Linked DNA regions of Homo sapiens. The protein of the gene in region 1 interacts with the protein of each later gene in a pairwise test. Each region holds a gene or a part of one and is shown on either strand. Other genes may lie near its edges.

Region 1 (3,500 bases):
TGTATTTATTGGCCCATCTTCTCCCAGGGATATCAGCTCCATGAGGGCAGGACTCTGCCTCATCTGCCACTGTATCCCCTCACCTAGAATCATGCCTGGAACCTAGGAGGTGCTCAGTAAGTATTTTTTAAATAAATGAATGAATGAGTTAATGAAGGAACAGATGAGAAGGTTACTTGAGAACATGCACCCAGAGCCACACACAGCATAATGTTTGATTATTAGGCATTGATACAGACACAGAACCACACAGGTGCCAGCTCAGACTTTCTGTTTTAGAGAAAGGGTCTTGCTCTGTTGCCCTGGCTAGAATGCTGGGATTATCCGTGTGAACCAGCGTGCCTGGCCCCCATCTCAGTTATCTGGAAATAGTTTCCAACAAACGGGTGCAACGTGCAAATTTCACATCACGGGGATGCACCTGTCTGTGCACTGGCCCACACACAGACCTACACATGGATGCCCAGGGAAAGACATGGGCCATGGCCTCCTGGGGGCTCAGGCCCCTGGACAACACACACACACCTGTCCCTGACACCTCCCAGATTAGACACACCCTGCGGTGCCTGATGTAGCTGGTAGCGGGGCGAGAAGCTCAATCAACTCTTTTCTCATCCAGTCCACTCAGGCCCCTCCCACAGCACCCAGGCCACTCCCACAGAGCTCAGGCCACTCCCATAGCACCCAGGCCATTCCCACAGCACCCAGGGCATTCCCATAGCATCCAGGGCACTCCCACAGCACCCAGGCCACTCCCATAGAGCTCAGGCCTCTCCCACAATACCCAGGCCACTCCCACAGGACTCATGCCACTCCCACAGTACCCAGGCCTCTCCCACAGCACCCAAGCCACTCCCACAGTGTTCAGGCCACTCCCACAGCACCCGCTCCCCTCCCCGCACCTTGCACTGCAGGTAGGCAGTCTGGGGCCTGCCGGCGTCGTCCGTGTAGATGACCTGCATGACGTGCGAGCCGCCAAAGCTCTTTTCCTCAACCTTTTCCGCTGCCCGGATGTTGGCTAACTTGATGAGGGCGCTTTTCTGGGGCAGGCAGGGAGGAGGAGGCTCAGGGACCTAGCCAGGGGCATTCCATTCCCCATCTCTGGGCCTCAGTCTCCCCTTCTGCAGCACCAGGGGTAGGCATGGGAGACCTAGAGTGACCTCAGCCAGGGCAGAGCACAGACTGATGGTGACCAAGTGCCCAGCAACTGGGAGAGGAGGACCTGGCCTCTCTGGGGGGCACTCCCAGAAGGCCTCGGAGGTGTGAGCTTTGGGGTAGTGTCGGGACAGCCAGCATTCCCTGGGCTACAAAGTCAATCCGGCCGTGGCCAAGGCTTTGTGACTTTGCATTTATTAATTTTCCAACTTGCTTTTGTAGTCCCAGGCTCTAATAGTCATATCCTGACCGGGCGCAGTGGCTCACACATGTAATCCCAGCATTTTGGGAGGCCGAGGAAGGCGGATCACCTGAGGTTGGGAGTTCGAGACCAGCCTGACAAACATGGAGAAACTCTGTGTCTACTAAAAATACAAAATTAGCCGGGCATGGTGGCGCATGCCTGTAATCCCAGCTACTTGGGAGGCTGAGGCAGGAGAATCGCTTGAACCCGGGAGGCGGAGGTTGCGGTGAGCCAAGATCGCACCATTGCACTCTGGCCTGGGCAACAAAAGCGAAACTCCATCTCAAAAAAAAAAAAAAAAATGGGACCAGAATTAAATAATGCCCATGTAGTCAAATCTTTCAACCCTGGCAAGGAAGATGTATAATAATCATCTGAGTGCTTTGGGAGGCTGGGGCAGGAGGATTGCCTGAGGCCAGGAGTTTGAGAACAGCCTGGGCAGCATAGCAAGACCCCATCTCCGCAAAAAAAAAAGTTAAAGAAAATTAGCTGGGCTTGGTGGCACGTGCCTGTAGTCCCAGCTACTCGGGAGGCTGAGGTAGGAAGATTGCTTGAGCCCAGGAGTTTGAGGCTGCGGTCAGCTATGATCGCACCACTGCACTACAGCCTGGGTGACAGAGCAAGACCCTGTCTCAAAAAATAATTATCATCATCTGAGGGGTCTTTGGTCGGAAGGGGCGGGCCCCTCATCTGGTGGGACCCCTGAGCTGGTTGAGAACAGGGTGGGTGATGAGCTCCTTCACCTACTCCTAGCCCGCTCTCACCTGCCCAGGGCTAGGCTGGGTACTCCTGGAAGATCATCCCCATAGCCTGCATGACTGGGGGCAGGTGTACAGCAAGCAGTCACCAGGTCCATGGAGGAAGTATGTCCTCAGCCCTTCCTGGGAGAAGAGAGCTTGCAGGAGAGGTGACCCATGACTCAGAGAGGGCTGTACAAGGTGATCTTTGAGATCCCTTCCCACGCCAAGATTCCGTGCTTCTATATTCCTGCCTCTTCCAGGAAGCCTCCCCTGTTTGCCCTAGCCTCCTACTCATCTAGCAGCCCAGGTGATATACTATCTTTAATAATATCATTTGCCTAAATAGTACTACCTGCCAGGCCCTGGGTCAGGACCCTTAGGGAGATCATCTCATTTAATCCTCAACAACCTGGTAAGGTCGGATCAACTTCCTCCATATTCATTTTTTTTTTTTTTGAGATGGAGTCTTGCTCTGTTGCCCAGGTTGGAGTGCAGTGGCACGATCTCGGCTCACTGCAACTTCTGCCTCCCAGGTTCAAGCGATTCCCGTGCCTCAGCCTCCCGAGTAGCTGGGACTACAGGCACCCACCACCACACCCGGCTGATTTTTTGTATTTTTAGTAGAGACGGGGTTTCTCCATGTTGGCCAGGCTGGTCTCAAACTCCTAACCTCAAGTGATCCACCCGCCTTGGCCTCCCAAAGTCCTGGGATTACAGGCGTGAGCCACCGTGCCCGGCCCTCCTAGGTTCTGACAAGCAGTACAGATGCCACACACCTGGCTTTCTTCTCTGACCCCGGGGGTACCTCAAGTGGGCTCCAAGGAAGGGGACAGGTGCCCCACTTGCCGGCCTCTCAGAGCCCCACTTGCCGGCCTCCCTCCTTACCCACCTTGGAGCTGGGCGTCTTCGCGAAGCTGAGGGCCTCGGTAGTGAGGGAGAAGTAGAGCTTCTTGAAGGAGGAGGACATGAGGGGGCCCTTGCCCTTGGTCCTGTGGATGAAGAGTGGCCCCTCCTTCACAGGTGGCGCCTGCAAACTCAGCGTCCGCTGCAGGTCCAGCTCTGCCAGGCCAGGGAGGGAGGGGAATAGAGAGCCCAGTGAATGAGGGCGGGACTGGGGGGAGCGGAGCAGTGGGAGGGGCCATGGGGCTCAAGGGCTGAGCAAATCTGAACAGCAGGCAGTGGACGTAGTCATGGGGCTCAAGGGCGGAGCAAACATCAACAGCTGGTGGTGAGCGGGGTGACAGGTGGACTGAGGAAGGCAGGGCCATGGGCTTGGAGGCGGGACACGCGTCAGTAGCAGGTGGCGGCGGGGCTATGGAGCTCAAGGATGGAGCAAATGTCAACAGGCGCAGATGATGGGG
Region 2 (3,500 bases), on another chromosome or scaffold:
TAGCCAGAATAGCACCTTGAGTCAGTTTCCATGTCCCAAGGACAATGTGATGAAGGTCAGATGTTCAATTCACCTGCATATGCAGTGGGGTCTGCGCTACAGAGAAGAACTCTGAAATTATGAGACTCAGAGCTTATATAGAATGGTTGACATATGTGGCCCTCCTCCCTTCCAGAGAGAGGAGAGAACCTGGAATGTAAACAAGTCCTCCCTGGGAAGGGGACTTTCACAATCATTGAAGGTAAACAAATGGCTCTGGGGGAAAGAGGAAAGCAGCTCTCTATTTTTAGTAAAGCTTGTCTGCTTCCTTTGCCCAGAATCCTCAAACTGTGCAGGAACTCTGAGAAATCCAGGGTATAATTATCTCCCAACAATAATCCCCAAGGTCTCTTTTAGCTCTGATATTCTATGTCAAAATCCCTTAACCATCCCCAACCTGGCTTCATGTCTCCTCACCTAGTTCTGCAAGTTACAGTAACTGCACCTCAAAGCAAGACCACCCTCTGCTGCTCATCCCAGGGCCTCACCCAACACAAGGGATCAATCCCCTCTCTGATGTCCTATGGGTCATAGACTTAACTCCATCCAATTGGGTAAATCCATTGAGTCATTAATCTTTCCTGTTTGTGTCTTCCCATTCCCAAACCACAGAGCAAGATCCCAGAGGGGAGAAGCCATGCTTTTTTATCTCTCTCCGCCCCAGCAGGCCTCACCCAGTGTTAATGCACAGAGGAGCTACGCAGTGAATCTTCATGAGTGCCTTCCTCTCTGGTGCTTCCCACACAAACTTCCCCCAAAAAACAGCCGACACCTGCCATTTCTGCATCACCGTTAACAGGAGAACTGTGAATTCTCTCTATTTAAGTCTCAATATCCAAGCAGTTGCCACATTCCGACAATTTCTCACCTTTAAACTGCTGCTCCTTCCAACTACCCTAGTCCAGACCCTCATTATCTCATGCTTGGACACCTCTGTGTCCACGCCCAGAGCTCCCAAAATGCCAACTTAGCATTTGGAAGGATCATATATGGAGGCATTCTAAAATAGTTTCCAAAGTTTTTCTAAGACCTACTGAATATTGAGGAGTGGAACCATGATTTCTACATGTATCCAGTCTCTCAGGTGATTCCAAAACAGAGGCAGGTTTAGGAACTACTGGAGCATGTCAGTTCTCTTTTAGTTCACTATAAAAACCTGCCAGATTCAACTTCATAAAATACCACTTACATGAAGGGAGGGTGGTGGTCATAGTTTGGCTCTAAAAGTTTGAAAATTAAAGGTCATCCACCTGTAGAAACCTGTTTTTGCCTTAAAATGCCCACAGGATGAAGACTGAACACCTTTACCAGCATTCAAGTCCCTTTATAAAAAGCCTCTGCTTCACCCAAATTCTTCTTTGAACCTGCTATAAGCTTTCTACACCACTGAGCCTTTCCCCAATGTCATAATCTTCTCCTACTCCTGCTCACCTCCCTCAGGAAGCCCTCCCAGACTTCCTCATTTCTGCTACATGTCAGTAATATTTACAGAGCACTTACCATGATCTACTTTGTGTTGGTATTTATCTGTTATGAAATTAGCTGGTCCAAATGGAAAGGAAGAGACCAAAAAGATCATCGAAAAGCTGTAAGAACTGAGGGAACTATTTATTCCCTCAGAACCTAGATTCTTTCTCTTCAGAATAGAGACTTGGAACAGATGGGATTATAAAGCCCCAGTTAGAACTAAAATGTAGGCATGCCTGAAACCCCTGGTCTAATCATCCTCACCTTTCACTCTCCACCCAATACACATACATGCATTGTACAAATAAGGACCCCATAGAAACCGGTAGGAAACCATGTGCTGGAGCATGAAAGAGCCAGGGTCTCACCTTGTAACTGAAGCTGATGGCATTGTCATAGCCAACCCACTCTTTCCCCTTGTTGGCATACGGGACATACTGGTAATCAATCCAGTGCTTCTTCGCTCCCCAGACAAAGGAACAAATCTGCCAAGAGGACCACCAGGTTAGTTCTGGGAAGTGCCATGGAGATAAGCACCAAGAGACAGTTGTTCCTTGCCCAAGGATAAAGAATCCAAGAATCCCTAACCAGCGAATGAGAAGAAGGTAAACCAAAGAGAGAATGGAGAGGCCACTCACAAATGAGTTCCTCTCTATTTTGAATAAATTCCTACTGTTACCCTTTCCTCTCTCTACTGTCCATGATGGAAAAAAGGGAACCAAAGAGTGGATGACATCCTTAAGAAACCAAGCCAGGGGTATAATGCCAGTACCAAAATAGTAAGAGTAACATACATGATCCTTGACCAAATCTGTATCTCATTCAAAGTGTTTTCATAAACAAGTCTCTCCTGTTCATTAGATCCCAGCACAGACTGCCCCATATAGGTGGTTCTCAAACTAGCACCTGAACTTCTAGTAGATTTAAAGTTCTTGAAGGCAGGGAGAACTAGGTTGCTATAAATAATTAAGCATTTGAGTGTCCACTGAGTGCCCAGCATTGTGCTAAAAACTATATGCTGCAAAAAAGTAGAGGTACGCAAGCTGTGCTGCAGAAGTTAATGTCTAAGCCATTCCTTTTCTCCTTTGGTGCTTCAAAGGGTCTGTCTATCAAAGCTTCTTTGCCCTTCAAGAACATTGTTTCAACTATGCCAGCACTCATAAAAATGCTTCATTGGGTTAGAAAAACACCCTCATCCATCCAGCGCAGAGCAGAGATTGGAGAGACTTGCAGCACCTCCACTACTGCCTAAAGTACTCACCCTGTCCCTCTGTACCTGCTGTCCTCTACCTGGGAAGTCCTTCCCGTCTAGTCATTCCTGTCCATCAGGATTTTCCTGTGCTTCAAACTCTGCTCAAACTCTACCTGCTCCATAAGACCTTTCCAGGTCACTACAGCCACACAGTTATGTGGCTCGTATTGCCACCTCTGGTGGTTACATTCCCTTGGAAACATGTCTCTTTCCGCCACCCAATAGCAAGCTTGGTTGAGACGAAGATGAAGAGGGTAGAGCTGGAGTGGAGAGAAAGAACCTGTAGTAGATAATGTCTTGGAATTGCTTCAAAATCATCTAGTAGTAGGGAGGGAGGGAGCCAGCAGAGATGAGACAAAATTGGCCATGAATTATTAATGATTGAAGCTGAGTGAGTAGTATGTGGGGGAGGTACAGAGGCTATACTATTCTTTTAATTTTGCATATGTTTGAAATTATATATATTGCAAATATTAATGATTTTTATTTAGGCCATACAGAAAGTCAGGGTTTACCTGTATAGCATATAAGATCATTTTTGGGGTGCAATGAAACCCTTCCATCCAGATTCCACCAAGTCCTTCGTCCCTTACAAAGGACTCAAATAACTTACCTCAAAGAAAAAGAAAATATCCCAGAGAGTGGGTTTCTCTTGTACTAATAGACCACCTCTTTGCCCTGTCTACAGCTCTCACCCTTGCCATTGCCCCTTGTCCTGGCCTTTGCTCCAGCTGGGGGTGGG

What was found. Proteins that work in one complex are often made in the same cells at the same time.
Region 2: the proteins of RASA4 (region 1) and OVGP1 interact in a two-hybrid assay, tested with the Homo sapiens proteins (one large-scale study listed by IntAct).

What each region holds. Positions count from the first base shown.
Region 1 is NC_000007.14:102,589,257-102,592,756, forward strand, and holds part of RASA4 (ras GTPase-activating protein 4), read right to left. Parts: intron 3,199-3,500; coding exon 3,029-3,198; intron 1,041-3,028; coding exon 903-1,040; intron 1-902. UniProt on the Homo sapiens protein: Ca(2+)-dependent Ras GTPase-activating protein, that switches off the Ras-MAPK pathway following a stimulus that elevates intracellular calcium. Functions as an adaptor for Cdc42 and Rac1 during FcR-mediated phagocytosis.
Region 2 is NC_000001.11:111,417,736-111,421,235, forward strand, and holds part of OVGP1 (oviduct-specific glycoprotein precursor), read right to left. Parts: intron 1,994-3,500; exon of another isoform or gene 1,992-1,993; coding exon 1,875-1,991; exon of another isoform or gene 1-1,874. UniProt on the Homo sapiens protein: Binds to oocyte zona pellucida in vivo. May play a role in the fertilization process and/or early embryonic development.